Regions from separate parts of the Homo sapiens genome. Here region 2 is linked to region 1. The links come from fine-mapping of genetic effects on gene expression. Tissue or cell type: testis. Region 1 holds a variant in brackets; the other region holds the start of a gene. All regions are shown on one strand. Distances are between the middles of the regions.

Evidence for each region.
Region 2: it holds the start of GORASP2, and the variant in region 1 is fine-mapped to the expression of GORASP2 in testis (GTEx, PIP 0.95).

Annotation. Positions count from the first base shown.
Region 1 is chr2:170,898,714-170,915,679 of GRCh38, reverse strand. No RefSeq gene overlaps it. Among named protein-coding and RNA genes, the nearest start is that of GORASP2, 22 kb to the left of the region's middle. The variant T/C (reference allele first, on the strand shown) is at 9,308.
Region 2 is chr2:170,920,168-170,933,877 of GRCh38, reverse strand. It overlaps GORASP2 (golgi reassembly stacking protein 2), which reads right to left and starts at 4,625. Exons shown (of 10, transcript NM_015530.5): 1 at 4,475-4,625. The coding sequence starts at 4,537. RefSeq lists a silencer at 4,147-4,846.

The sequences.
Region 1 (16,966 bases):
TCGGCAGTCCCCACACTCGGAGCGACCCAACCCCGGGCAGTGAGGGGCTTAGCACCCAGGCCAGCAGCTGTGGAGAGTGTGCTGGGTCCCCCCCGCCCCCACACTACCGGCTTGCCCGCCCCGCTTGAATTCTTGCTGAGCCTTAGCTGCCTCCCCGCAGGGCAGGGCTCATGACCTGCAGCCCACCATGCCCAATTACCCATCCCCCACTGCCCATGGTGGCCTCTGGCACCACCTGAGCCTCCCCGATGGGCACCGCCCCCTGCTCTGCAGCGCCCAGTCCCATCGACCACCCAAGGGCTGAGGAGTGTGCTTGGGCTGAGGAGTGCGGCTCCCAGTGCAGGACTGGCAGGCAGCACCGCCCATGGTGCTGGCTTGGCGCGGGATCCACTAGGTGAAGCCAGCAGGGCTCCTGAGTTGGGTGGGGACTCCAGAGAACTTTTATGTCTAGCTAAGGGTTTGTAAATGCACCAATCAGCACTTTGTGTCTAGCTCAAGGTTTGTAAATGCACCAGTCAGCAACCTGTGTCTAGCTCAAGGTTTGTAAACACACCAATCAGTGCTCTGTGTCTAGCTAATCTAGTGGGGACTTGGATAACTTTTGTGTCTAGCTAAAGGATTGTAAAGGCACCAATCAGCACTCTGTGTCTAGCTCAAGGTTTGTAAACGCACCAATCATCACCCTGTCAAAACGGACCAATCAGCTGTCTGTAAAATGGGTCAATCAGCTCTCTGTAAAATGGACCAATCAGCAGGATGTGGGTGGGGTCAGATAAGGGAATAAAAGCCGGCTGCCCAGGCCGGCTGGGCAACCCGCTAGCGTCCCATTGAATGCTGTAGAGGGTTGGTTTTTTTTTTTGCTCTTTGCAATAAATCTTGCTGTTGCTCACTCTTTGGGTCCGTGCTGCCTTTATGAGCTGTAACACTCACCGCGAAGGTTTGCAGCCTCGCTCCTGAAGCCAGTGAGACCACCAACCCACCAACCCACTGGGAGAAATGAATAACTCCAGACGCGCTGCCTTTAAGAGCTCTAACACTCACCGCGAAGGTCTGCAGCTTCACTCCTGAAGGCAGCGAGACTGCGCACCCACCAGAAGGAATAAACTCCGGACCTATCTGAACATCTGAAGGAACAAACTCCCGACACAACATGTTTAAAAACTGTAACACTCACCACGTGGGTCTGTGGCTTTATTCTTGAAGTCAGCGAGACCAAGAACCCACCAATTGCGGACGCGGTAGGACTGCCAAATAAAGAGACTGGAGGAAACCTCGAATTCATCTCCTCAAGGAATTTTGGGGCTAGGATTTTGGAGTGGGCTGGAGTGTGGAGATCATTGACTGATCAAAAAGTGCAGGGTGAAGTCATGGGACAGGGAGGTGAAGAACCTGTATTCTCATCCTGATTTGGTTCCTCTGTGGGGATCTTTAAACTTGGTGTCAGCTGGTCACTAGAATTCAGAATCTGAGGTACATCTTAAGTAATTCTTAAACAAAAGCCTCCTGATTCTAACATCAGGAATCCTGTCTCTAGGACCAATGGGGATGCAAATGATTAGTATCTAGTGTTATTTAGGTTTTTAAAAAGTGGGTCAAAGTGCAGTCTCTAACAATTAAAAGTACATTTCTGTTCAGGATTCTTGCTAATCTTGTGAGAATGGCTTCATAACCAGGAGTCACAAACTCGTATGTCCACGGAGGGAATTAAGTTGGGCTGAGTATGTGGGAGTGGTGGGGGCCGTGGGAAATAGGAATTCTCAAGCCCCTCCTAAAAGGGCTAGCTACTGCTAATCTCCACCTGATTGAGGACGTTAAGGAATTGGAGTCTAGTGTTGTCAAATTTGATTTTTCAAGAGATCTAGAAACTTACAGTACTCTTATGAAATCAACCAATTTAAAAAATATCAGTAATCATGGCCAGGTGTGGTGGCTCATGCCTGTAATCCCAGCACTTTGGGAGGCAGAGGCAAGCAGATCACTGTATAGGCCAGGAGTTCGAGACCAGCCTGGCCAACATGGTGAAGCTCCATCTGTACTAAAAATACGAAAAAAAAAAATTAGCTGGGTATGGTGGTGCCACTGCACTCCAGCTTGGGTGACAGGAGACCATGTCTCAAAAAATAAAATTAAATTAAAAAGCTGACAATACTAAGCACTAGCAAGGATGCAGAGCACCTAGAACGCGCAAACATTGCTGGTGGAAATGCAAAATGGTACAGCCACATTGGAGGACAGTTTGGCAGTTTCTTTTGAAGTTAAACAAGCACTTAACATATGATCCAGTGATCTCACTCCTAGATATTTACAGAAAATAAATGTCCATCCAAAATGTTCATACAAAAACCTATATATGACTGTTTATAGCAGCTTTGTTGTCTATTTAGTGTTAATCTGTCTGGAAGTAAACTAAACTCCACAGTGAGGTTTTCCCATTGGGTGGGTATCCTGGGGAAAAGAAGCTCTTCCCTATGGAGTCTTTTCATGCCATCATTGCATGCAAGGGATCGCTTGACCATCCATGGTACAAATGTTCACAGTGCAGCCACATAGCACCTAGGGGAAAATGAGGGCAATGTTGGGGATAGAGTGAATGAGAAAGGGAGAAAAAGAATGAACTAAGGAAGGGAAAATTATTTAGCTGGTGGTAAAGAATGGAATTGACCTGATCATCTCAGGCCCTACCTCCTTGAGGCTGATCAGGACACAGTAGGGCACACTGGTACCATGTCAGTGGAACTGTGCCTAGGACTTCTCTTTGAGCATTTAAGATAATGTCTACAGAGATGTTGTCAGGCTGGACATCAACCTGTTTGGGGAAGGGTGACCTTAGTGCCTTTCTTTCAGCTATGGCATGAAGTTACCAAAGCGATTAGATGGAAAGAAATGTTTTTTCCAGGCTGGGTGTGGTGGCTCACACCTGTAATCCCAGCACTTTGGGAGGCCGAGGTGGGCGGATCACAAGGTCAGGAGTTCGAGACCAGCCTGGCCAATATGGTGAAACCCCGTCTCTACTAAAAATACAAAAATTAGCCGGGCATGGTGGCGGGTGCCTGTAGTCCCAGCTTTTCAGGAGGCTGAGGCAGAAGAATTGCTTGAACCCAGGAGGCAGAGGTTGCAGTGAGCCGAGATTGCACCATTGCACTTTAGCCTGGGAGACAGAGATAATCCATCTAAAAAAAAAAAAAGAAATATTTTTTTTTCCCTACAAATCATGCTGGAACAATTGGATAGGCAAATGCAAAATATAAACCTCAACTCTTCCCACACCATATAAAAATTAACTTGAAATGGGTCCTAGACCATTTTCTTACCCAAGTGTAAAAACAAACATTATAAAACTGCAAGAAAAAAAAATAGAAGAAATCTTAGCAATTTGGATTTGGCACAGAATTATAAATAGGTTTCAAAAACACAGTAAATTGGACTTACCAAAATTTAATGCTTTTGCTCTTCAAAAGAGAATTGTTAAAAATGGAAAGTCACAGAATGGGAGGAAATATTCTCAATACATATATGAAACCCACAGATGACAAAACAATAAATGACTTGAAGGAGAAAGACTGGGAAGGCAAATTAATAAGGAAAAGATGCCATCTCAAGAGGCAGTAGGGCAAATAATTCAAACAAGTAATTATAGAAGATGAAATCAGATACCCAATAGAAATATGAAAAAACCCAAGTATCTCCAGAAAAAAATTTTTAAAGTCAATTAAAATAGGTTCTACCTATAGTGAAAACTATAAAATATTGCTGAAGGAAATTAAAGGAGACCTAATTAAATGAAAAAAATACCATGTTCATAGCTTGGAAGACAATATTGTTAAGATAGCGACACTACTCAAAGCAATCTAAAGATTCACTGCAATACCTATCAAAATTCCAACAACCTTTTATTGCAGAAATGGAAAAGCTGATATTCAATTCGTATGCATTGCATATCCCACCTCCCACAATAGCCAAATAATTCTTGAGAAAAAATGCTGGGAGCAGTGGTTTATGCCTATAATCCCAGTACTTTGGGAGGCTGAGGTAGACGATTGTGTAAACCTGGGAGTTCAAGACCAGCCTGAGCAACATAATGAGACCTCATCTCTACAAAAAAAATTAAAAAATTAGCCAGGCATGGTGGCACATGCCTATAGTCTCAGCTATTCGAGAGGGTCAAAGCTTCAGTGAGCCATGATTGTATCATTGCACTCCAGCATAGGTGACAGAGTGAGACCTTGTCTCAAAAACAGAGACGGAGAGAGAACAAAATCAGAGGACTCATACTTCTTGATTTCAAAACTTACTACAAAAATACATTAATCAAACAATGTGATACTAACATAAGGATAGACATATAAACCAATGGAATATAATTGAGACTCCCTAAAAAAACCCATACATCTATAGCCAGTTGATTTTTGATAAGGATGCCAAGTTCATTCAATGGCAAAGGAATAGTCTTCAACAAATTGTGCTGGGACAACTGGATAACTACATGCAAAAGAATGAAGTTGGATTCTTACCACACTCTATATATGAAAATTAACTCAAAATAGATTAATAACCTAAGTATAAGAGTTAAAACCATAAAGCTCTTAGAAAAAAACATATGGGGAAACCTTCATGACTTTGGATTTGGAAATAGATTCTTAGATATGACACCAAAAGCACAGGCAACAAAAAAAATAAATTGCACTTTGTCAAAATGAAAAACTTTTGCACCTCAAAGGACGTTATAAAAAAAGTGAAAAAACCTATAAAATAGGAGAAAATGGGCTGTGCTCAGTGGCTTATGTCTGTAATCCCAACACCTTGGGTGGCTGAGATGGGAGGATCACTTGAGGCCAGGAGTTCAAGACCAGCCTGGGCAACATAGCAAGACCCCTACAAAAGATTTAAAAATTAGCCGATCATGGTTGTGTGCACCTGTAGTCCTAGCTACTTAGGAGGCTGAGGCAGAAAGATCCCTTGAGCCCAAGAGTTATAGTGAGCCCAAGGTTATCATGAGCTATGATTGTACCACTGCCCTCCAGGCTGGGTGACAGAGCAAGACTCTGTCTTTAAAGAAAAGAAAAAGAGAGAAAACAAAATAATATATCTGATAAAAGTTTAACATCCAGAATATATAGAGAACTCCTGCAACTCAATCACAAAAAGACAAACAACCCAATAAAAAATAGACGAAGAATTTAAACAGACAGTTCTCTAAAGAAGGTAAACAAATGGCCAAAATGCATGTGAAAAGGTGTTCCGCATCATTAGTCATTAGGGAAATGCTAATCAAACCCCAGTAAGATACCACTTCACACCCAGTTAGGGTGGGTATTATTTAAAATACCCCAAAACCAAAAGCCAAAAAGAAAAGAAAGAAAGATAAATAGCAAATATTCTTGAAGATATGGAGAAACTAGAACTCTCATGAGTTGCTGATGGGAATGTAGAATGGTGTAGCCACTGTGGAACACAGTGTAGTGGTTCCTCAAAAAGTTAAGCATAGAATTACCATATAACCCTGCGGCTGGGCACAGTGGCTCATGCCTATAATCCCAACACTTTGGGAGGCCAAAGCGGGTGTATCACCTGAGGTCAGGAGTTCAAGACCAGCCTGGCCAACATGGCGAAACCCCATCTCTACTAAAAATACAAAAATCAGCTAGGCATGGTGGTGCACGCACACTCCTCAGCAAAGGCAACTCCCCAGCTACTCAAAAGGCTGAGGCAAGAGAATTGCTTGAACCTGGGAGGCAGAGGTTGCAGTGAGCCGAGATAGTACCACTGCACTCCAGCCTGGGCAGCAGAGTGAGACTCTGTCTCAAAAAAAAGAATTACCATATAACCTAGCACCTTTACTCCTGAGTATACATCCAAGGGATTTGAAAACAGGGACTCAAACAGATGCTTGTACATGAATGTTCATAGCAGCATTATTCACAATAGCCAAAAGGTGGAAACAACCCAATTGATCATAACAGATGAATGGATACATATGGATGAGCCTTGAAAACATTATGCTAAGTGAAATAAACCAGACACGCAAAAAAAATATTGGGTGATTTCACTCATATCAACAATCTAGAATAGACAAATTTATAGAGACAAAGTAAATGAGAGGTTTGGGAGAGGGGAGAATGGAGAGTTATTGCTTAATGAGATAAAAGCTTTGGAAATAGTGATAGGGTTGCACAACATTGTGAATGTAATTAATCCCACAAAATTGTATGCTTAAAACTATTTAAGTGGTAAATTTACATATATATAAAATAGAAAAAGATATACATTTATTTCATAGATATATATCACAATAAATTTTTAAAAATAGATACTACCTTTTTTTGGCTTACCTTTTTTTTTTGATGGAATCTCACTCTGTCGCCCAGGCTGGAGTGCAGTGGCACGATTTCGGCTTGCTGCGACCTCTGCCTCCCGGGTTCAAGCAATTCTCTGCCTCAGCCTCCTGAGTAGCTGGGATTACAGGCGCTTGCCACCACTCCCGGCTAATTTTGTTAAAATATTTTTAGTAGAGACGGGGTTTCACCAACTTGGCCAGGCTAGTCTTGAACTCCTGACCTCAGGATCCACCCGCCTCGGCCTCCCAAAGTGCTGGGATTACAGGCATGAGCCACCGTGCCCGGCTTTGGCTTACCATTTTAGTGATAAACTCAGCGTTAGCAAAATTATGTGCACTACTGATGGAGAGAGTTTAAACTGTTGCAAAATTTCTAGAGTTAGGTCTACCCCAATTTGCAGAACAATAAACTAGATACACAGTGGTAACAATAGGGATCAGTGAGGGATGCAGTTGTCATTCATGGGTCATATTTCCAAAAAAAAATTTTTTTTTTTTTTGAGACAGGGTCCCACTATGTCACCCAGGCTGGAGTGCAGTGGTGAGATCACAGCTCACTGTAGCCTGGACCCCAGGCTCAGGTGATCCTTCTTCCTCAGCCTTCCAATTAGCTGGGACTACAGCCACCCACTACCATTCCCCGCCAATATTTGTATTTTTTGTAGAGATGGGGTTTCGCCATGTTGGCCAGGCTGGTCTTGAACTCCTGGCCTCAAGTGATCCACCTGCCTCAGCCTCCCAAAGTGCTGGGATTACAGGTGTCAGCCACTGTGCCTGGCTTCAAAAATCTTGTTCTATTGAAAAATGTGATAGTAAATATAAACACAGCTTCTTTACTGTTTATATTACCATTTTCTTTACAGAGTTTTTTTTTTTTTACTTTTTAAAAAGTATAAGTTCCAGGGTACATGTGCAGGATGTGCAGGTTTGTTACATAGGTAAACATATGCCATGGTGGTTGGCTGTACCTATCAACCCATCACCTAGGTATTAAGCCTTGCATGATTTAGCTATCTTTCCTGATGCTCTCCCTCCCCGCTCTTCCCCCACTCCAGACAGGCCCCAGTGTGTGTTGTTCCCCTCCCTGTGTCCATGTGTTCTCATTGTTTAGCTCCCGCTTATGAGTGAGAACATGAAGTGTTTGGTTTTCTGTTCCTGCGTTAATTTGCTGAGGATAATGGCTTCCAGCTCCATCCATGTCCCTGCAAAGGACATGATCTTGTTCCTCTTTATGACTGCATAGTATTTCCATGGTATATATTTACCACATTTTCTTTATCCAGTCTATCATTGATGGGCATTTGGGTTGATTCCGTTTCTTTACTATTGTGAATAGTGCTTCAGTGAACATACACGTGCACATATCTTTATAACAGAATGATTTATATTCCTTTGGATATATACCCAGTAATGGGATTGCTGGGTCAAATGGTATTTCTGGTTCTAGGTCTTTGAGAAATTACCACACTGACTTCCACAATGGTTGAACTCATTTACATTCCCACCCACAGTGTAAAAGCGTTCCTATGTCTCCACAGCCTCGCCAGCATCAGTTGTTTCTTGACTTTTTAATAATCGCCATTCTGACTGGTGTGATGTGGTATCTCATTGTGGTTTTGATTTGCATTTCTCTAATGATCAGTGATGTTGAGCTTTTTTCCATATGTTTGTTGGCTGCATAAATGTCTTATTTTGAGAAGCGTCTGTTCATGTCCTTTGCCCATTTTGGCACCACATGGCGCTTACTCTAAAATTGATCACATAATTGAAAGTAAAACACTTCTCAGCAAATGCAAAAGAACTGAAATCATAACACTCTCTCAGACCACAGCGCAATTAAATTAGAACTCAAGATTAAGAAACTCACTCGAAACCACACAACTACATGGAAATTGAACAACCAGCTCCAGTGTTTTGTTTTTAAAGACAAAGATAATTGAATGGTAATGAATGCTGATCTATTTTTCTTAGACAATGACACCTAGTGATGGTATAGCTGTTTAACAAAGAGCCAATAATTTAATAACAAGTTATCCAAATTTTAGGCCAAATATTTATGGAGGCAATGCCCTAACAATTCTTTTTTTTTTTTTTTTCAACCTAAAGGTTTCTCTGTACACTAACAATTCTCAAGTACTATTTTAACAAACCTTCTGGTCAGGTGACAGTAGTATTTCATACCAAGAAAAAAGATTTCTGGCAAATAGTTGAGCTCAGACCTTCCATAAGATTATCATTACCTTATTTGAAATCTGAAATTATTTTGTTACTCAGAAAAAAAATCCTTTTCATGGTCAAGGCTAGGTATGGGGCAGGAAATAATAAGTGAGTTCTAGAGATAAATTACCTAAGGTATATTGTTAAGAGTAATAGACTGAATTGAAAAGAAAAAACATTAGTAATGGATAAATGAGATATTTTTGTTTCAAACAATACCAATCTCAAAGGGTCCTCCTTGAAGCTAGTAACCACGTTTCATTTCTTTGGGGGAAATGATTTATAAGAGATTGAAGGAAGCTCTTGTCATGGTACTAATTTGTTCTAAATTTTCCATCCATAGCATTTGATTCCATGTGTCAGGGTCTTTGCATTACCACATTGCTTTTGAGGACAGCCTCTATTTCCCCCTGGCCTCATCTGTTCACAAGGGTCTCAAATTGAAGGAGTTCTCCTGTCATCTCTCCCTAGCCCTCATTCATGATGCTTGATAGGTGGTATGGGCCTGGCATTCATTGGTTCATGCTTCTCAAATCAGCAGAGGAAATGAATTAAAATCTAAAAACACTGCAAGGAGTCTTGCCCCACTGGGACAACTCAAAATAGATTAATAACCTAAGTATAAGAGTTAAAAACATAAAAGCTCTTAGAAAAAAACATATGGGGAAAACTTCATGACTTTGGATTTGGAAATAGATTCTTAGATATGACACCAAAAGCACAGGCAACAAAAAAAAATAGATAAATTGCACTTTG[T/C]CAAAATGAAAAAGTTTTGCACATCAAAGGACGTTATAAAAAAAAGTGAAAAGTGTGTTGTTTGACTATGGACTTAAATGTTATGCCCAATTGGTCATGTGAGAACGTAAAGCTGGAGAGTATTAGGACAAACACTTATTTGTCCTCCTCAAGCTTCTACAGGGAGGTGATTTCCACACGCTTGCCACAAAAAATAAGTTAGGGAGTATCCCTTCAGCTTCTCTGTCTGGGGAGAGGAGTGGCGGATCTCACTGAAGTGTCTGGGGAAGGAACGGAGCATGCTCGGTTCCAGTCCTCTTGGCTCTCCCTGCTGGGTGAGACCAGCAGAGATCAGGCTTTCAGGTTTGTTGTTCACTCTGTGGTAAACATCCCGTGCTGGCTCTGCAGTGTCCAGCTGTCCTCCTATGACTGAGTGGAAAAGTAAATGCTGGGATGAAGAAGGATTAGGAAGCACACTGTGGCTGCACATTTAAACCATATACTTGAATTGCTTTCTCCATCATAATGGCATGACAAAAGTCACCATCTGCCTAAACCCTATGTCTTATCCTTCAAAGGACAGAGTTGGTTCTGAACTCTATGAGGATGAAAGGGGTGTGTCTACAGCCTCTAAAGTCCCAACAGGGTGCCGAATTTGTTAGCTACTCTTTGGTTAGAACCACCTTATAAACCCAGAGATACCAGAATTTAGTAATGAGGGACACATATACCATATTTGCTTGAGTTGTCCTCAGGTTTTTGTGATTTCCTGAAAACTTTATCTAGTCTCATGCCTTTGCTCTTACTGTTTTCTGCAGAGAACACCCTTTTTACTGGTTCTTTATTCAGTGAACTCCAGGAAGCCGTCTTTGACTACCTCCCACCTGATTAAAAATTCTTTTTACTTTATTCGATTTATTTATTTATTTGAGACAAGCTCTCACTCTATCACCCAGACTGGAGTGCAGTGGTGCGATCTCAGCTCACTACAATCTCCACCTCTAAGGCTCAAGCAATCCTCGTGCCTCAGTCTCCCGAGTAGCTAGGGCTACAGGCGTGCACCACCATGCCCAGCTAATTTTTGTTATTTTCAGTACAGACAGCGTTTTGCCATGTTGGTCAGGCTGGTCTCGAACTCCTGACCTCAAGTGATCTGGTTGCCTTGGCCTCCCAAAGTGCTGAGATTACAGGCATGAGCTACCGCATCCGGTCTATTAGATTTTTAGATTATAAAAGGATACAGACCATTTTTAAATAATAGAAAGGCAAATAATACAAATGATTATTATAATGTATAATTAAAATGATAAAAAATTCACAGTTCCCATACTCAAATTCTACTCTTCAGAAATAACCAATATTAAGAGTGTGGTGTATATAGTTTCACTTCTTTGGCTAAATATAAATGGATACACACCTATGCACACACCGGTTTTCTTTTTGCCCAAGCCCCCACCCCCCACACAAAAACAGGGTCGTATTATATACAGGACTCTGTGATGTGCTTCCCTTCCTTTCATTTAATAATATATCATGAACATTCTTCTATTTTGATAGCAATATTATAGTACATAATTTGATACTTGTTAAAATGCCTAATTTTTAGTTCCTTTTAAAAATTTTGCTGTATTATCTGACTTCCAAACCAAGACAATTACAAGTATTATCTTACTCTTAACTTAATGGAAATATATTTAATAATTCTTTTTTTTTTTTGACAGGGTCTTGTTCTGTTGCTCAGGCTGGAGTGCAGCAGCAGCTCAATTACAGTTCACTGCATTCTCAACCTCCCAAGTTGACGCGATCCTCTCATCTCAGCCTCTCACGTAGTTGGGACTACAGGCATGCGCCACCACACCCAGCTAATTTTTTTTTTTTTTCGGTAGAGACAGGGTCTCATAATGTTGAGAGACAGGGTCTCATAATGTTGCCCAGGCTGGTCTCAAACTCCTGGGCTCAAGCAATCCTCCCACCTTAGCCTTCCAAAGTGTTGGGATTACAGGCATGAGCCACTACTCCTGGCCGTTAATTCATTATTTAATATGATGTTTGCTCTTGGTTTTGTGTTTTGTTTGTTTGTTTTTTGCTAACTAGTCTTTTTCATGTTAAGATGGTTTCCTGTTAACCCTGTTTTACTTCAAGTTTTTATTAGGAAAAGCTGCTGAAATTTTTCAAGTGACTTTTTGACATATTCCCCCTTAATTCGTGACTTTTCCCATTTAACCTGTGGTATTTATAAGTTTTAAAAAATATTGAACCATTGGCATTCTTGAAATAAGCCCTTTTTGGTCATATTATTTTTCACTATACTGCTGGATTCCATTTGTAAAACATTTTATGTATTTAGAAAATTTTAAGTTTAAAGAGACTCTGTAGTCTCTTTTTTTCTATCAAGTTCTGTGCCTTCATAGTATCCTAGTCATGCTTCTATCATAGTACTTGTGACCTTGACGAAACTGGAGAGCAGGGACCAGATTGTATTCTATATTCTGTCCTTTGTGTCAAGCACAATGCTTAGGACATGGTAGAAGCTCAATGAATCTATTATATGTTGAATGAAAGAAGAGACGGCTTATTTATTTATTTCTCTATTTATTTATTTTTACTCAACATGCCTAAGGTAAAAAAGGAACAGCTTTTAGGAACATTTTCCTTTAATCCAGTTTTACCTACTTTTTGTGGTTTGCCATCTAGTAACTTTAATACCTCTTTTGTTCCAATGCCAGTGCTTCAGTGTTTCTCTCTTCACTAGTTCCCTTGAAGAAATATCATTATTGAATACAATATTGCAGTTAAAATGGAAAAACTAGAGCCACATGTATCAACATGAATAGATCTCAAAGGTATAAAGTTTAAAAAGCAAGGATATGTACAGCATACAATCTATGTAAAGTTTTAAAAATGCAAATAAGGCTGGGTGAGTTGGCTCATGCCTGTAATCTCAGCACTTTGGGAGGCCAAGGTGGATGGATCACTTGAGGTCAGGAGTTCCAGACCAGCTTGGGCAACATGGTGAAACCCCATCTCTGCCAGAAATACAAAAATTAGCTGGACGTGGTGGCTGTGCCTGTAATCCCAGCTACTCGGGAGGCTGAGGCAGGAGAATCGCTTGAACCTGGGAGGCAGAGGTTGCAGTGAGCCGAGATCATGCCACTGCACTCCAGCCTGGGTAACAAACCAAGATTCCATCTCAAAAAAAAAAAAAAAAAAAAAAAAAAAAAAAAAAAAAAGCAAACAAGGCCAAGTGAGCTCACACCTGTAATCCCAGCACTTTGAGAGGCCGAGGCAGGAGGATTGCTTGAGGCCAGGATCTTGAGACCAGCCTGGGCAACATTGTGAGACCCCATCTCTACAAAAAACAATTTTAAAAAAATTAGCCAGGCATTGTAACATATGCCTGTAGTCCCAGCTTCTCACAAGACTGAAGTGGGAGGATTGCTTGAGTCCAGGAGGTTTAGGCTGCACTGAGCCATGATTGCACCACTGCACTCCAGGTTGGACAGCAGAATGAGTCCCTGTCTCAAAAAAAAAAAAATGCAAACAGTACTAGGCACTTGTATTGGTTATGTGCTTCCACTCCTGTATTGCAAGAGGCTAAAAACCTGTGAGCTACATACCTGTTGCAGGCTTCCTTGCTAGTTGGATTCTGATTAGGTTTTGCCAATGCAAGGCAGTAGCAGGAGATTAGAAAACAGAAGAAAGGGTGATGCCATTTTTCTTTCTGTTCCTGGCAGTGCTCCTAGCAATGGCAGCAGCAGCAATAGTAGGTGACTGAAGAGGAGCATTTCAGTAGTATCAGTGGCTATTTTGGCAGTGGGAGTGCCAACCTGTAGCAACCCAACAGGGAAGAAGCCAAGTGAACAGGTATTCTGATCTCCTTCTCTTCCTCTTCACCTTTTACCAGTGCTTCCCATTGGCCAAAGCCAACCAGAAGCCAGAGATAAAGGGAGTCCAGTGAGGCAGTCTGCATCACCCACTTTTCTGAGCACAAAAAAGGTAGAGAATTGATCTGGCGGATAAATGGGTGAAATTGAACATAACCCCTTATTCCATTTGCATATTCAGCCCTTCCTTTCTATACCTTTATAACCAATTATCAGTATTACATCTCCTTTCTGTGAAATGCGTAGAGTGGTTTCCATTTTCCTGATTGGACAGTGGTTGATTGAATATAGTTTATGGATACAAACATGTAGCAAAGGAATAAAAACTTCCACGGGAATAATAAACCCCATGTTCAAGATACTGGTTACTGCTGGTTGGAAGAGAGAGAATGAAATTGGGAATAAGTACACAGGGGCATCTTCTGTATCTGAAATATTTATTTCTTAAGCTGGAAGGTGAATTTATGGATATTTTCCATATTATTGTCTATGTTCGTTATATTAGACTCTGTTTTCAGTTGCCAGAAGCATTTATTTATTCTCAAAACTCAGTGTGCATAAATTAATGAATGAACAAATGAATGAAACTTGACTCTGAATTCTGATCCTCTCATTTAATTGTTGTTTGAACTGAGATGAGTTAAACTACTTAAAGTTCTCTTATTTTGTGTCTTCATCCACAGGATAAGGTTAATAGTAGCCACCTTACAGCACTATTGTGATGATAAGTGGCATGATATATACAAAAGGTTCTAGCCCTCAACAAATCAGTCTCCTTCCTTCCTGAACTTTTAGAAAGAATAAGAGCTTGATTTTTATAAACGTTTAATTTTTGTAAGCTTTGAATTTAGAGACTGGATTTTTATATACTCTGTATGACTTAAGGCATACCATTGTGCTATGCATCAAGAAGGTTGCTTGCTTGTTTTTTTTGTTGTTGTTTTGGGACAAGGTCTCATTCTGTCACTCAGGCTGGAGTGCAGTGACACAATCATGGCTCACTGCAGCCTTGACCTCCCCAGGCTCAGGTGATCCTCCCACCTCAGCCTCCTGAGTAGCTGGGACTACAGGTGCGCGCTACCAGCTAATTTTTGTAGTTTTTGTAGAGACCCCCGTCTCTTCACCATGTTGTCCAGGTGGTCTCGAACTTCTCGGCCCAAGCGATCTGCCCTCCTCAGCCTCCCAAATTGCTGGGATTACAGGCGTGAGTCACTGTGCCCAGCCCACTTTCTTTTCTTTTAAAAATCATGTAATGGGCAGGGCGCGGGGGCTCACGCCTGTAATCCCAGCACTTTGGGAGGCCAAGGCGGGCGGAGCACGAGGTCAGGAGATCGAGACCATCTTGGCTAACAGAATGAAACCCCGTCTCTACTAAAAATACAAAAAATTAGCCGGGCATGGTGGTGGGCGCCTGTAGTCCCAGCTACTCGGGAGGCTGAGGCAGGAGAATGGCGTGAACCCGGGAGGCAGAGCTTGCAGTGAGCCGAGATCGCGCCACTGCACTCCAGGCTGGGTGACAGAGCAAGACTCCGTCTCAAAAAAAAAAAAAAAAAAAAAAGTAATGTTCCTTTAAAAGATTAAAAAGGGGTAGTTAAAAGAAGGGTAGTTGTTCAATGCAGAAAATTGGAAAAACACAGAAAAATAAATGAAAATAAAATTTACTGTAACTCTACCACTCATAACTGTTATAAACATATAGAAATATTGAAAATTAGGCTGGGCACAGTGTGATGTGCCTATAGTTTTGCCTATTAAGATGGCTGAGGCAGGAGGATTACGTGAGCCCATGACTTTGAAGCCAGCCTGGGCAATATAGCAAGACCCCTGTCTCTAAAATAATTTTAAAAAAAGACATAAAATTAGAATAATATTATATATAGTTTTGCAATATGGTTCTTTGATTTCATTTTATAGAGTATATGTGTTCCTGTGTCAAATATTATATGATATCACTTCCACTGGTTATATTATATTCCGATGGATGTACTTGAATTTATTTAACAAATTGGCCTATTCAGGATGTTTAGGTTTTACTAATGTTTCAGTACTGTAATTAATGTTGTAATGAATATCTTTGTTGATAAGTGTTTGTCTGCATTTCTTATAATTTCCTTGGACAAAATACTTGTGGAAATTTTGATCAAATGATATGTATATTTTATGGCATCTGAAACTTACAGCTATCTTGCTTTCAAGAAAGATTGTACCAAAAAAAAGCAGAAGGAGAAATTTACAAAGAAAGATTATACTAATTAATACTGCCTCTAGCAGTGTTGGAGGACACTACTTTTCCATAGCAGGAAGTTACTTTCAAAAAGATAAATTGGAACAAGCATGGACTTAGTAATGAAATCTACAACAGATTATAACTGGTTTGATGTTTAAAGAATACCAGCAAAATGCCACATCTTCACGGAGCGAGGACTGCCATGAGCCATTAAATATAATTTTAACAGGTTACCATGCAGAGGGATTCTAGCAAAGCTCACAAGTGTCACCTTCTATCTGGAATTAACTAAACATAAACATCAGCTGGAGGTGATCTGGAAACCAACTGATCTGTGGGTTTTCTAAATCCAGACGCAATAGTGATTTAGTTGGGAAAATGATGGAACAGGAGCCAGGGAAATTCTCTGCTCTTGTCTGGGGCCTGACACTTGGATTTTTTGTGTCTTGGACACTTAGCTCTTACCTTTCCTCTGCTTCCAGTTTGAAGAGTCTTAGACCCACTCTGAACTGATTAAATGGCAGGAAAAAAAAGATGGCAAAAAGTATCAGCTCAGCCAGGCGAAGTGGCTCACACCTGTAATCCTAGCACTTTGGGAGTTCAAGACCAGCCTGGGCAACAGTGAAACTTCATCTCTAAAAAAACATTACCTGAGTGTGGTGGCACACAGCTGTAGTTCCAACTACTAGAGAGACTGAGGTGGATTGCTTGAGCCTGGGAGGTCAAGGCTGCAGTGAGCTGAGATTACACCACTGCACTCCAGCCTAGGTGACAGAGTGAGACCGTGTCTCAAAAAAAAAAAAAAAGTGTCAGCTAATGAGAGCTTCCACTTATTAATTAATATCTGTAGCTATGAACCTCTGGCACCTACTAGCTTCATTTTGAACCAATGAATTTCAAAAATAATTAAAGTTAATGAGCTGCTCTTTGTGATAGGACCCTGACAACTTAACAGCCATTTGATGAGTGGGAAGTGCAAAGTGGGGAAAGTGTCACTTGCTGATGAACAGGATTTCCTCATCTTCAAGATACAAGAAACCAGCCCATAGGTGAAAGTGATGTACTATTGAGTCAAAGAAGACATAGGATGGGGTTTACAAATTTAATTGAAGGACAAGTACCAACCTTAAAAATGATTTCTCTAGGCTAAAATCAGACCTTCTTCCAAAGTTCTAAAATTATTGTGTCAAAATGTTGGTAAGAATTCATGGCAAAGTCTTCCATGAAGTCTGGGAACCCAAGAGAGTCAGTCATCACAGCCTAAGTAGGACACCAAACTTTCTATCCTTTAGTAACAAAAATCAGAGTTGGGAATTATGGGTATGGAGGACTAGAACACTAAGTTGGCAGGAGGTGTTTGTGAATTCAGTTTGCGGAGGGTTTTTCAGTGGGAATTTCTTGAAGCAAATGCAAATCGAGTCTGGAAATGTCAGGTTGGGAGCTGCCTCAGTGGCTGGGAGGAAAAGATAAATCTGAGGAGGTAGAACATCATCAAAATGTATTTCCCGAAGGGATCCTGTGCACGTCTGTATTCTACTGTAAGACAATTTTATGTGGTAAATGGTCAAA
Region 2 (13,710 bases), 20 kb before region 1:
TTTCATGTCAATGACCCTTCCTTCAAAATATCCATCACCTCAAAATCTCTCCCAGAAGCAAGCATGAGAAAGAATGAAAATGCCATTTTCCATGTCTCCACACTCCACACAGTCTCCACACTGAATACTTGCTCCAGAAAGTATGCCCTCAGCTATTCCCCATCTCTTTTAAGTGTGGAACAGAATATGAATATTTTAATTTAAAAGCAGATCCTATAATAGGCATCTGTGAGGTCACTCCAAAAATTTAATTTTGTGAACTATGTCACTAATAATTTTTTAGAGAACCTTGTTTATTACCTTTCAGCTTTATTTTCCTGAGCACTCAAATGTACCTGCACATACACAGGGTGTTTGAAACACAATTTTGAGCGAATGTATAGCATTCTATCTGTGGTTAGGCCCTGATTTGTTTAACAATTTCTCACCTGTTGGATATTTTGGTTTAATTTAATTTTGAAAATGGTCTTGTTGGGTTCACTGGATAATTAATGGAAAATATAGGCAAAAATTTGATATTAAACATAGTTCACATGTAGGGGGTAACTTACAATAACTTCAAAAACTGAGAAGCCCTAACATTTTTCCTGCCTTACATTAGGATTGGAGGACCAAAATAAAAGTGCCATTCATAGTGAGCACAAATCTGACCCACTATATAAGGAAATCTGAAATGCTATTTTTTAAAAAAAGACTTCTACACAAATTTTTAAATCCTCCACTAGGAGTCCACTTCTTTTTTAAAAGTAATTTTGCATATCTACACTTTGGGTGACTATACAAGTATTTAATGATCACTTCAGAAATCCTAGAAAATATATTAAAGTTAAAAAAAAAGTCACCATCCACTAATAATTTTTTAGACAACCTTGTTTATTACCTTTCAGCTTTATTTTCCTAAGCACTCAAATGTACCTGCACACACACAGGGTGTCTGAAACACAATTTTGAGTGAATGTGTAGCATTCTATCTGTGTTTAGGCCCTGATTTGTTTAACAATTTCTCAGCTGTTGGCTATTTTGGTTGTAATGTTAACCTCTTAAGATAACTTTTGGCCATATAGTCCTTGAATACGTCATATTATTCAAAATCTTTGTGAAACATGGCTAAGGGGCGATGTTAGGCCCAGGAAAAAAAGGAGACTAAGAGAAATACTTCAACAGTATTTGCCTTTAGATGGTGGGATTACAGGTAATTCAGGTTCTTTGCTGTACTTTTTTACCACATCCAAATGTTCTCTAATGGACACATGTTGATGATCAGAAAACAATGTAGTTATTTACTAAAATAAAGATCAACATTTCTACAGACAGCTACCATTAAAATTCAATACAGTAATCTGGGAAAAGGATGTATGTTATGGGAAAACAAAAAGTAGGATTTAAGGTTGTAAATATGTACTTATAATAACAGAAGACTAGATAACCAAATGTTCAACACCAGGAGGTACTCCTTAACCAATCTATGGTACAAAAGACTACCGTGAGCTAACTGAAAGCATGAAGCAGATGGCCACTTGCTACTACAGAAAGACTGCCAAGATAGGTCAACAACTGAGAAGACTGAGGTGTGCAACAGCATGGATCATGATTACAAGGTAACAAAAAGAAAGAGAGAAGGGTGGAAGAAGAAGAGACTCTTTTTTTTTTGAAAAGAAGTCTCACTCTTTTTGCCTAGGCTAGAGTGCAATGGCACAATCTCAGCTCACTGCAACCTCCGCCTCCCAGGTTCAAGTGATTCTCCTGCCTCAGCCTCCCAAGTAGCTGGGATTACAGGTGTGCACTACCATGCCCGGCTAATTTTTTATATTTTTAATAGAGATGGGGTTTCACCATGTTGGTCAGGCTGGTCTCGAACTCCTGACCTCAGGTGATCCGCCCACCTCGGCCTCCCAAAGTGGGGATTACAGGTGTGAGCCACTGTGCGCGGCCAAAGAGACTTTTTTATAAGCATAAAATATATCTGAAAGGCTATGTAAAAAACTGTCCACAGTGGTTACTCTGGAGTGGGGATAAGAAGTTGGGTACACAATATGATCACAATCTGAAAATATGCACTCATACATACAGAACACATAAAAAGGAACTACACTGCTCATAGCAGAACTTCTGAATCCATTTAAAGGCTGTCCCCTAAATATTTTTAGATGGATATTGAAAAATAATGAAAAAAATGGAAAGCTCAATCTATCTGAATTATAGGGACTCATGAAATCAAAAGACAGCAGTGGATATAAATGTTATTATAATTGGTATTTCAAAACCCAGTCAATCATATTAAGTTTTTACTACAACAAGATTGGCCAGGGAATTGGTTATTCAAGAAAACTAACTTCTAATTAAATCGTTCTAGAACTTGTTGAATATGGGTGATTTTATTCAAAATTTTCCTGCCACAGTTACTCCAGTTTACAAGCTTGGTAATCTAACAATGAAATATATCGCTGTCCATTTAGGCAATAACAAATGAAAGGAAGACATTTTTACATGTTAAGATTTAACACAGCACTTTTCCCTCTAAAAACAAAGATAAGAAAACCAATTACAGAATCAGGGGCAGAGGGTCTTAGGAAGGCAGACACAAAATTCTCCTAAACTAGATCATTACTATTTTAAAGCTCTCTTTAGTAAAAGTCTAACTAAATAAGAATTATTTCATCGTGTGCAACATTAATGCTCCAGATGCAGATTGGTAACTAAGGTTGTCCCTAGTTTTTCTAAAAATCAGATGTATAGATTAATAACACATCTGCACTACTGAATATGTATGAATGCTGTTTCACTTGACTGCACTTACATAAAGAAAATACAAACTCATTTTATGTCGGAATGCAGTCACTAAGTTGGAATCCTTTTGATGTGTATGGCTTTCTTTCAAACACGCGACTTTTTTTTTTTTTTTTTGCTTATTAACACTAATGTGTTTTACTGAGTTTCCCTGAGTGCATGTATTATAAAAATATCATGAATCCCCAAGGATTCATGACCACAATCGGTCACTGTGAGAAACAGCTGGTAATACTGGGTAACATCCCAGGGTAGAGAACTCAAAATCAGACCAGATAATAGAAAGAAAAGCACAGCTTTCACCTCACATTTGGGAACTGACAATTCTCCTTCCATTTCCTCTCTCAGTGTGGCTCTTGGGTGTTTGGTTAGCAGAAGGGGATAGGAAGATAATACGGTTTATTTATAGGCTCCCTTTTCCTTTCGGGGAAAAAAAAAATCACCCTTTCCTACTAAGAGTATGGCAGAGGAGGGATTTTTAGTGTAATGGAAAGGCAATAGACACGATAATCCGGAAGATCAGAAAGATGATCTGTCTCAGCCCTATCACATAGACAGCTGGGCAATTTAAGAATGTGTCTCACCTAAAACATGGGACCCAGGGCAGGAAATGAAGGTAGCACCAGGAAGTGCACTCTCTTACTTTCAGTGAAAACGTTCTTGCCTGTGAGGAGCTAATATTGAGTGACACTCTATTACACCCCTAAATGGCGCTACACGCTGCGGCCACTCTGTTGACTGTTCATGTTAACACTCACACAGGTGTCACAGCAAACAACCATCAATGCTACTTCTAAAGTCGCCCGGTTCCATGAGGAAAAGACCACATGCTTTGTACCACCCAGGCCCAGGCCGTTCATAGGTAGGGGCTTAGCTGACGCCTTTTGAGATACTATGTTTCTCTGCGTCCTGGAAGTTAAGCTAGGGTTGTTTTCCTTTATATACTCCGATTTTTAAAAAAAATTTCTCTGCACTACCTCTTTACCACTGTGGATCTAAACCTTATAATCTAAACCACACCCTCAGCAATCGGAACAGAACGGAAGTTCCCACTCCAGGAAATCTTGAGAAGGTTTGGGAGGGTCAGGAGTGGCACGGGAAAGGAAAAGTCTGGTCAAAATCAAGTCTGTTTAAGTCCGTCGAACCTACTTCCAGGCCATTTGGTTTTCCGTCTCCTGCCCTGCTGGTCTTTCAGGCCACTCGGCCGGCGCCGAGGTGATTTAACACCTGCCGCCGCAGGCCCCGCCTCCGGACTGCGGGTCCGGATCCCTCTCCTAGGAAAGCGCAAAGGCTGCCTTCACAGTCACCACTTTGGAGACGTTGCCTCCGCGCCCTTCCTAACTTTGGAAGCTAAAAATGAGGGGGGGTGGAGGAGAGAGAAGGCCGTGCGGAAAAAGAGCAAGGTTGTCCCCCCTTCCCAGGGCCGCCCCCTGGCCGAGTCGCCGGCAGCCGCCTCCAGCTCCAGCCCGTCCTCCTACAGCCGCGGACCCCGTGCCCAGGGCGCTCCGCGGAGGTGGGATGCGAGCGGCCTCCGGAACCAGCCTCGACCAAGGCAGCGCCCGCGACCGCCGCTCCTTCGCGGGATCGGGCCTGGCTGCCCCGTGAAGGAGCCCATGGGGGCCTCCGCCTCCCCGCGGCCGGCCCCGCCTCCAGCCCGCAGCTCCCCGGCCGCCGTCGGAGCCCTTACCCGCAGAACGTGGTAGCCCTCGGTGCCCCCGCCCGGGATCTCGACGCTTTGCGAGGAGCCCATGGCGGCGGGCGATCGGTGTGGCCGAGCCGGGCTCCGCGCTGCTCCCGCCCCCAGCGCACCGCCTGCTCTAATCCTCCGCGTAGCACTTGGGACGTGGCACTCGCTGCCGCCGGAGAGCCGGGCCGCACAGCCCGCCGGGAGATCGTCTCTGCTGCAGCCCGGGCCGCTGCGACGCCGCAGACAGCGCCACCTGCCGCGAGCCACTGGAAGGGGCCCGAGCGCTCGCGGGCCGGGAGGGCGGAGAGGGAGGGCCGGAGGAGGACTGGGAGGCACCGCGTCGTGCTCGCGAGAGAACAGAAATGCGCTTCCCCCAGCTTTGGCGCCTTGCTACGGGGCCCTGGATTGGACTAGATTTATGCAGACGCGTTCCCGCTCGCCTGAAAGAACACATACTTGGTTGCAGGTCCCCCTGGTGGCCAGAGGCGGGGAAAGGGCTGCTGATGAACAGGAGCGAACTCAACACACACCAAGCTCTCTGTTCTCCGGGTGTGTAGGTATTTTCCCAAACTGTACAGCTGAGGGGAATAGTGGCCTCCTGTGGGCTGCCTAGCATCTGCTCAGCTAAATTTTATAAAAGGAAACGCTCCCTTTATAAAACAGTAGTCTCACAGAGTCACCTACCAACTTCTTTTTTGGTTTGGGTTTGTTTTTTTTTCTTCCTCCCTAATTGTGAGAATAAGATTAGAGGATTGGTCATAATCAGAGCGATGCCAGCGTGGGAAGCACGGTTGGATTTCCCTGGCATTCCACCACCTGCTGCTGCTCGGTTCCCCGTCCTACCTCCTTCAGGTAGCCAGGTCGTATTCATGCTTATTCCGTTGTCGTATTCCGTTGCTGCTTTTGCCCCTTACGTGTACTCCCTCTGAAACCCCTAGTTGCTTTGTGGTCAGTTGGACTGATGTTGCGTCAACCAGGTATTATGTGGATTCCTATGTGATGCAATGTAAAGTACGTGCTATCGCCCATGAAGTATTCTAGCCCAAGGTGGTTAACTTGCCTCTATGGCATCTTGAGTTTGATGTTTACAGGAAGTAAGGGGAATTGAGGAGCAAGTAAAATGACACCACAGGGAACCAGGCAAATACAGGAAGTGGGCCTTCCTTCAGGACAGCTGGCCAGTTCTCTTTGTCGAGTCAGAGTCCTATGAAAGGGCCTATGCCAGATTAAAAGGAACCCGAAGAATATAACCAAGAGACACATTGCAAGGGCTTGAGTTGGGGGCCAACTTGGAGAAATAAGCGTAAAGGACATTTTTGGTTCATTTGGAGAAATTTGAATATGTACTGAGTATTAGAAGAGTAGTTATTCACATGGAAACGTGGAAATTATTGTCTTTTTTAAAAGCTGGTTACAAGACGGGATGTGTCTGTAGACAAAATGAAAAACATGTCCTCAAAATACAGATTAATATGTATGTATGCATATGAAGATGTGGGAGGAGAATATGAACCAAGGGTTACAGTGGTGATCTCTGGGTGGTGACAGAGATATTTTATTTTTTGTTTTGGCTGGTTCCATATTCTATGATGCTCATGAAGTGCTTTTGTAATAAGAAAATATTATTTAAAATTTAAAAATAATTTTCTTTGCTATCGGTAAGTGAATAGCAGATTTTTAGGAGGCCTAATAAATCCATAAATCCATAAATGAAATCTCCAGTTATTAGGCTCCTCAAGGACAGGGTCTGCAGTGGAGTTGGCTCTATGTTCTTGATATTTACCAGAATGCCTAGCAGCTAATTCAACAAATTAATACATTTAATGCAAGAGAATAAATGGAAGAACTAGATCTAATTATAATGTTCTCATTCTGCTTGGCAATTATAACCCTCTTTATGATGGAAGCTGCTGCCATGTTCAGTGGTCAAAATTTTTGGACCAGTTGTCTCCCATATGTCTGATGGCAGCCGCGGCCTATAGAACCCAGGCTGTGGATCGTTGGTGGTCCATGGGCAAGTCCAGCCCTTCCTTAGAGCTGTAGTGTATGTTTCAGCCTCATGAGTGGCTGCTTGTTATTCTCCACACAAGCCATTTACTTTCTTACCTTCTTGATTTTATTCATGCTATTCTCTACTTCTGGAATGCCCTTCCTTACATTTTCCACTTAAAAAATCCTAACTTTGAAAAAATCCTAATCCTTTAAGTCCCATCTCAAATGTTACTTATTTATCCTTAAGGTCAGTGTGACTCTCTCCTTGCCATGAAACAGTTCCTTCATTTCTATGACATCATCGTCATCATCACAGGCCTGTCTTCCACCATTCGTGGTCCATTCATTCAGAGCAAGGATCATATTTTTTTTTTCCTTCCTTCCTTCCTTCCTTCCTTTCTCTCTCTTTTCTTCTTTCTTTCTTTCTCTCTTTCTTTCTCTCTCTCTCTCTCTCTTTCTTTCTTTCTTTCTTTCTTTTCTTTCTCTCTTTCTCTTTCCCTCATTCCCTCGCTCCCTCCCTTCCTTCCTTCTTTTTTTTCCTTTCTTTCTTGTGAAATGGGTCTCACTCTGTCTCCCAGGCTGCAGTGCAGGGGTGTGATCACAGCTCACTGCAGCCTCCACCTCCTGGGCTCAAAATCATCCCTACCTCAGCCTCCCGAGTAGCTAAGACTACAGGCACGCACTACCACACCCAGCTAATTTTTTTGATTTTTTGCAGAGACGACGTCTCATTATGCTGCCAGGCTTGTTTCGAACTCCTGGGCTCACATGATTCTCCCACCTCAGTCTCCCAAAGTGCTGGGATTATAGGTGTGAGCCACCACACCCAGCCGATCATGTTTTTTCATCTTGAGATCCCCAGTTCCTGGTTGAGTATTGGGAACATGGTAGTAGTGTTTATTGATTTGAATTGAATGTGTGTAATGAATAGCTTCAAAGCCTTTTTTTCAGAATCAGTTAGTAAGTGACCTCTGTGGCTACTATTTGTGTCTCATCAAAATCTGTGGGTTTTTTTTCTTTTTTTTCCTAATTCCCAGGGTGATGGTAAAAACCCATGTTATTTCTTTAGCAGCAGTTGGTGGAGGGTGTGAGGGTGAGGTACAGGGCCCACCTGGTTTGGGACTGAAAAAATGTGAGAATGATTGCTCCATTTTTCCTGGTGCCAGTTGTTTCCTCTTTTAGTTGGAGAATACGCTCCAACAGAAGGCAAATAGTAAAATCTCAAGGATATTGCCAAAGCTAATATAAATAATACAACATGATGGAGGGAACACGTGGTAGATTATTGTCAAGTCAGCTTCAATTGGAGTAAGAATCTGCTGCAGGCAGGTTGGTATTTTGAAACATCAGAGGCAGCAGAAAAGTGAAGTCCAACAGAAGCAAATGTCTACAGGCTAAAAAACCGGAAGTAATCTATTCTTCTGGAAGAAGTATCTGGTACTCAATTTTGTGTGTGTTCTGAGTTCCATTAACATTAATTCTGAGTTCTTCCTTCCCCTCCCTTCCCTTCACCTCCCCTCCCCTCCCCTCCCGTCTTTCCTTCTAATAGAGTCTCTCTCTGTTGCCCAGGCTGGAGTGCAGTGGTATAATTTCAACTTGCTGCAACCTCCACCTCCCAGGTTCAAGCAATTCTTGTGTCTCAGCCTCCCAAGAAGCTGGGATTACAGGCATGCGCCACCATGCCCAGATAATTTTCATATATTTAGTAGAGATGGGGTTTTGCGGTGTTGGCCAGGCTGGTCTCAAACTCCTGGCCTCAAGCAATCTGCCCACCTCAGCTTCCCAAAGTGTGAGCCACCACACCTGGCCAATTCTGAGTTCTTGTAAATAAGTTGTTCATGATGGAGGGATCATTTTTATCATACACATTGAATATCCCTTATCTGAAATGCTTGAGACCAGAAGTGTTTTGGATTTTGGATTTTGGAACATTACTGGTTGAGAATCTCTAATCCAAAAATCCAAAATCCAAAGTGCTCCAATGAGCATTTCCTTTGAGTGTTATATCAGTACTCAAAAAGTTTCCAATTGGAGCATTTTGGATTTTTAGATTATTAATACTCAGCTTGGTATTGGTTAGTGCAGCCTTATCTTTTTGCCTTCAGACTACCCTGAGAAAGTTTGGTTCCTACCATATTTGAATAAGAACCACATTGGATAGGGCAGATGAGAATCTCCTAACCTAGCCTGTTTTGCTGAGGGAGCTAACCACATGAGACCACATGAGAGACCATGTTATGTGTCATGCACTCTCAGTCACAGCTGACTGGACTAGAGGGAAACCCTGATATACAGGCAGCCAATACCCACACTGAATGAGGTGGCCTTTAGAAAAGGTTCTCCCCCCACAAGTGGATGGTAGTGACCAGCTACACCAATCAGGTTTTCTCTCTGGGGACTTGGAACTGGGAAATACAAGGAGACACTCCATCAGTGTATATTTATTTGCATATTAGAATGTAAGCTCCATTAGGGCATGGACTTTGCCTGAGTGTTTACTACTGTGCTCTTAGTACTGACAAAGAATTGGCACATAATAGTTAATAAATGGCTGTTGAACGTATGAATGGTCGTGTTTGTAGTCATGTTGATGGCAGTGGCGATCCGTATGGAGTGGCCATTGCAAGGACACCAGCTGTAGCGGGGGAGGTGTGGCCAGGGCTGTGCACTCGTTGGCCCGTGGGGGCCAGGAACAGTTGAATCCCAGTGGGAGCCCCCACGCCCTACCGAGTTGGTGGGGTGGGAGCCCACCAACTCCTGGGTGCAGCTGCAGCTGCCCAGCTATGGCTCCAGACCCAGGCATCCCTATGCTCTCAGGGGCTCAGGAAGCCTCCTTCCCCCACAAGCTCAGAAGTGCCTGCTCCCACTCCCTGGCCTCTCCCTATCCCTAGCACCCACTCTGGTGTGGAACACAGTTGTGGCCGAGCCCAGGTACTGGTGCAACCCAGCCAGGTGTGTGTATCCTTGGGGCAGTACTGAGGCACCAGCCCTCTGCTACCTCGGCCCCTTCAGACTTTGGGCACTAATGAGCATGGGAGGAAGGCTGGGGTGCTGAGGGCAGCTTGACGTGGGCCTGCAGACAGCCTGGGCACTGCAAATGGCCTGTTGATGGTGGCAGGAGGCAGACAGGTTCCTAGGTGGGAAGAAGCAGGTCCCTGGTGAAACCCCATCTTCAGGCCAGGCCTAAAACCTAGGGGCCTGGCTCCCAGTTCCAGGTGGAGTTCATGACCCAGAGTGAGAACTTCCTTGATGCCTTTTGGCCAGTTGGATGGTGCCTTTTCCATGAACCAATCAGCATGTACTTCCTCCCTTCTGAGCTCATAAAAACCCCAGACTCAGCCAGACTCAGAGACTCATCAGGATTACCTGCTTGTGGATAGGAGCTACCCACTTTGGGTCTCCTCTATACTCGTTGGGAATACCTGCCTATGAATAGGAGCTACCCACTTTGGGTCTCCTCTATACTCATTGGGAATACCTGCCTATGAATAGGAGCTACCCAGTTTGGGTCTCCTGTCTGCTGAGAGCTGTTTGGTTGCCCAATAAAGCTCTTCTCTGCCTTGATCACCCTCCAGTTGCCCATGCAACCTCATTCTTCCTGGATATGGGACAAGAACTTGGGACCCACCAAATGGCAGGAGCAAAAGGAGCTGTAACACTTCCCTGGCTGGTTCCCTGAGCTATGGTGGGAGCTAAAGGGCTGCAACACTATAGCTCTCCCACCCTCTGCTGGCACCAGACAGCTGCCCCATGCGATGGGAAGCAGCAGCGGGGCTGGGCTAGCCCAGGAACTGTGGCCCAGAGTGTGGCAGCAGGACTGAAAGAGCTGTAACACAAATGGGCTGAAACATGCCCCCCAAAACACACCCCCCCACTCACCATGCTGCGGGCAATGAGAAGGAGAGAAGAGCTGTGGCCCTTCTGGATGCCCAGACCTTGGGGCTCCCTGAGCAAGGGCTGTGACACACTGTAACACCTTCTTTGGCACTCTGTAGTTCCTGGCATCTCTGAGCTTTTAGGTGCCACTGGACTCCCCTTGTCTAGATGCTGGTGCCCACAGTGGAAGCCGCTTGTGGTATATCGGGTCCAGCTGCAGCGTCACATGGAGCCAGCGCCTGTGCCAGTGCCTGGAGCTGCCCACCCTGCCACAGCAGCCAGTGTGCCTGGCTGTGCAAAGAGGCAAGAACCTGTGCTCACTCGTTCACATACCCCTCACTGCTCCACACCTGCCTCAACCTTGTCAAGTGTGGGATCCAGGCCGGCAGCAAAGCAAGTGTAGCCTGCCAGGCCAAGTGGGCAGGACAAGCCCAGCAGGCGCAAGCAAAACTCAAGCAGAGGTGCTGCTGATCACAGAGGTTTCCAGCTGGCAAAGCAACACCCTAAGGATCCTGTGACAATGTCAACAGAAAAGCACTAGAACAGTGGTTCTTAAGCTGGGGTATGTATCAGGTTCACCAGGGAACCTGGTAAAAATACAGAAGTCCCAGTGCTAGTCTACTTTGATGACCCTGGTCCCAGTATTTGTCATTAGTTTCCAGGTGATTCTGATACACACGTTTGAGAACTTCCCCATTAGAGCAATGTTTAATAAACTTCTGCTTTTTTGTGGGTAATCAGATAATGAATAAGAATCTCTAGAGCTGGGAGGAATCCTCTTAGCAATCAGACTTGACCACAAAGACCCAAATTGTGCTCAGTTTCTTACATATCTTTGTTGTTTCCATCACCTTTATTGTCAAATTTTTCTTTGTCTTTATCTATTTTCTAGACAAAATTTTGATTTTGGAATAATTTTCAATTAAATAAAAATTTGGGTAGAGACAGGGATCTTGCTAGTTTGCCCAGGCTGGTCTCGAACTCCTGGCCTCAAGTGATCCTCCTGCTTTGGCCTCCCTAAGTGCTGGGATTACAGGCATGAGCCACCACCCCCAGCCTGGAATAATTTTAGATTTAAGGAAAAGTTGCAGCCAGTACAGAGAGTTCCCATAGGTCCCCTTTACCCAGTTTCTCCTATTGTTAACATCTTACATCAACCACAGTATATTTGTTAAAACCAAGAAACCAACATTTGTACATTATTAGTTAAACTCTAAACTTTATTCAAATTTCACAGGTGTTTCTACTAATGTTCTTTTTCTGTTGCAGGATTCAGTCCAGGCCTACATCACAGTTAGTTGTCATGTCTCCTTTGTCTTCTCTGGTTTGGGACTGTGTCTCAATCTTTCCTGTTTTTCATGGCCTTGAGAGTTTCAAAGAGCACTGTTCAGGTTTTGTTTCTTTGTTTGTTTATTTTTGAGAGGGAGTGTCTCTCTGTCACCCAGGCTGGAGTGCAGTGGCTCAATCTCTCAGCTCACTACAACCTCCACCTCCCGAGTTCAAGTGATTCTCCTTCCTCAGCCTCTGAGTAGGTGGGACTACAGGCATGCGCCACCATGCCCAGCTAATTTTTTTATTTTTAGTAGAGACAGGGTTTCACCATGTTGGTCAGGCTGTGCTCAAACTCCTGACCTCAAGTGATCCACCTGCCTTGGCCTCCCAAAGTACGGAGACTACAAACGTGAGCCATCACGCCTGGCCCTGCTCAGGTATTTTAAAGAATATACCTCCTGTTGGGTATGCCTGTTGTCATGATTAGACTGAGGTTATGGATTTTGGGGAGGAATACCACAGAGGTGAAATGCCCATGCTTATCAGGTCATATCAGGAGTATGTGCTATTAACATGACTTATTAATGGTGATTTTAACCTTGATCATTAAGATGCTGTCCATTTTAATAGTAAAGTTACTATGTTCCCCTTTTTCCTATGGAAGCAAGTCACCGTGTCTAGGCATCCTAGAGGGTGTGTGTGTGTGTTGGGGGAGGGGAATTAAGCTGCACCTCCTGAAGGGGGTTATCTATGCAAATAATTTGGGGTGGGGTGTGGTGACTCACACCTGTAATCCCAGCACTTTGGGAGACTGAGGAGAGAGGATCACTTGAGGCCAGGAGTTTGAAACCAGCCTGGGCAACATAGGAAGACCCTGTCTCTATAAAAAATTTAAAAATTAGCCCGGCATGGTGGCGCACACCTGTAGTCCCAGCTACTCAGGAGGCTGAGGTGGGAGGATCACTTGAGCCTGGAAGACTGAGGCTGCAGTGAGCCGTGACCAGTGCCATTGCATTCCAAACTGCAACAGAGTAAGACCCAATCTCCAAAAAAAAAAAAAAAAAAAAAAAACCCAACTTTGGGAGGCTGAGGCGGGCAGATCACAAGGTCTGGAGTTCAAATCCAGCCTGGCCAACATAGTGAAACCCCATCTCTACTAAAAAATACAAAAAAAAAATTAGCTGGGCATGGTGGCACACACCTGTAGTCCCAGCTACTTGGGAGGCTGAGGCAGAAGAATCACTTGAACCTGGGAGTTGGAGGTTGCAGTGAGCTGAGATCACGCCACTGCACCCCAGCCTGGGCAGCACAGCGAGACTCTGTCTCAAAACAACAACAACAACAACAAAACAAACAAAAACACAACAATGACAAAAATAATTTGGAATTCTGTAAAGATTTTTGCCTCATCTCTCCCATTTATTAATTAATTAAATCACTTATTTGTATATCAATACGGGTTCATGTATATGTATTTTGTCTTTTGTTGGTTTTTTGTTGTTGTTGTTTGAGACAGATTCTCTCATTGCTGGTGGTAATGCAATATTTTGTAGCTAAATGGTACTGGCTTTGACCTGGGAAGCACTTTTCAGGTTGGCTTTTGTGTCCCTTTGACAGACCACCATTCTTTTTTAAAAAAAAAAAAATTGTGGTAAAATATACATACATAATATTTAATAGCTTAATCATTTCTACATGTACAGTTAAGCGGTATTAAATACATTCACATTGTTGTGGAATTATCCTTTTGTATTTTGAGCACGCCTGTACTTTCTGGCACTATAGGATGCTCAGGTTCATCTTGTATTTTTTCTTGCTCTAGCCCTAGAGTTAGCCATTTCTTTAAGGCACCCTGAATTCCTTAGAATGGAGAATGGTATTTAGAAACCAAGATTTGGCTTATTTTTTCATTCTCTTAGTGTAAATCACAGGGCAAAAGCTTTAAATTTTGATGAAGTCCAACTTACCAATATTTTCCATGGAATGTGCTTTTGGTTTTATATCTGAAAACTTATCACCAAACCAAAGGCCATGCAGATTTTCTTCTAAGTTTTCTTCTAGAAGTTTTACAGTTTTACATTTTATTTATAGGCCTA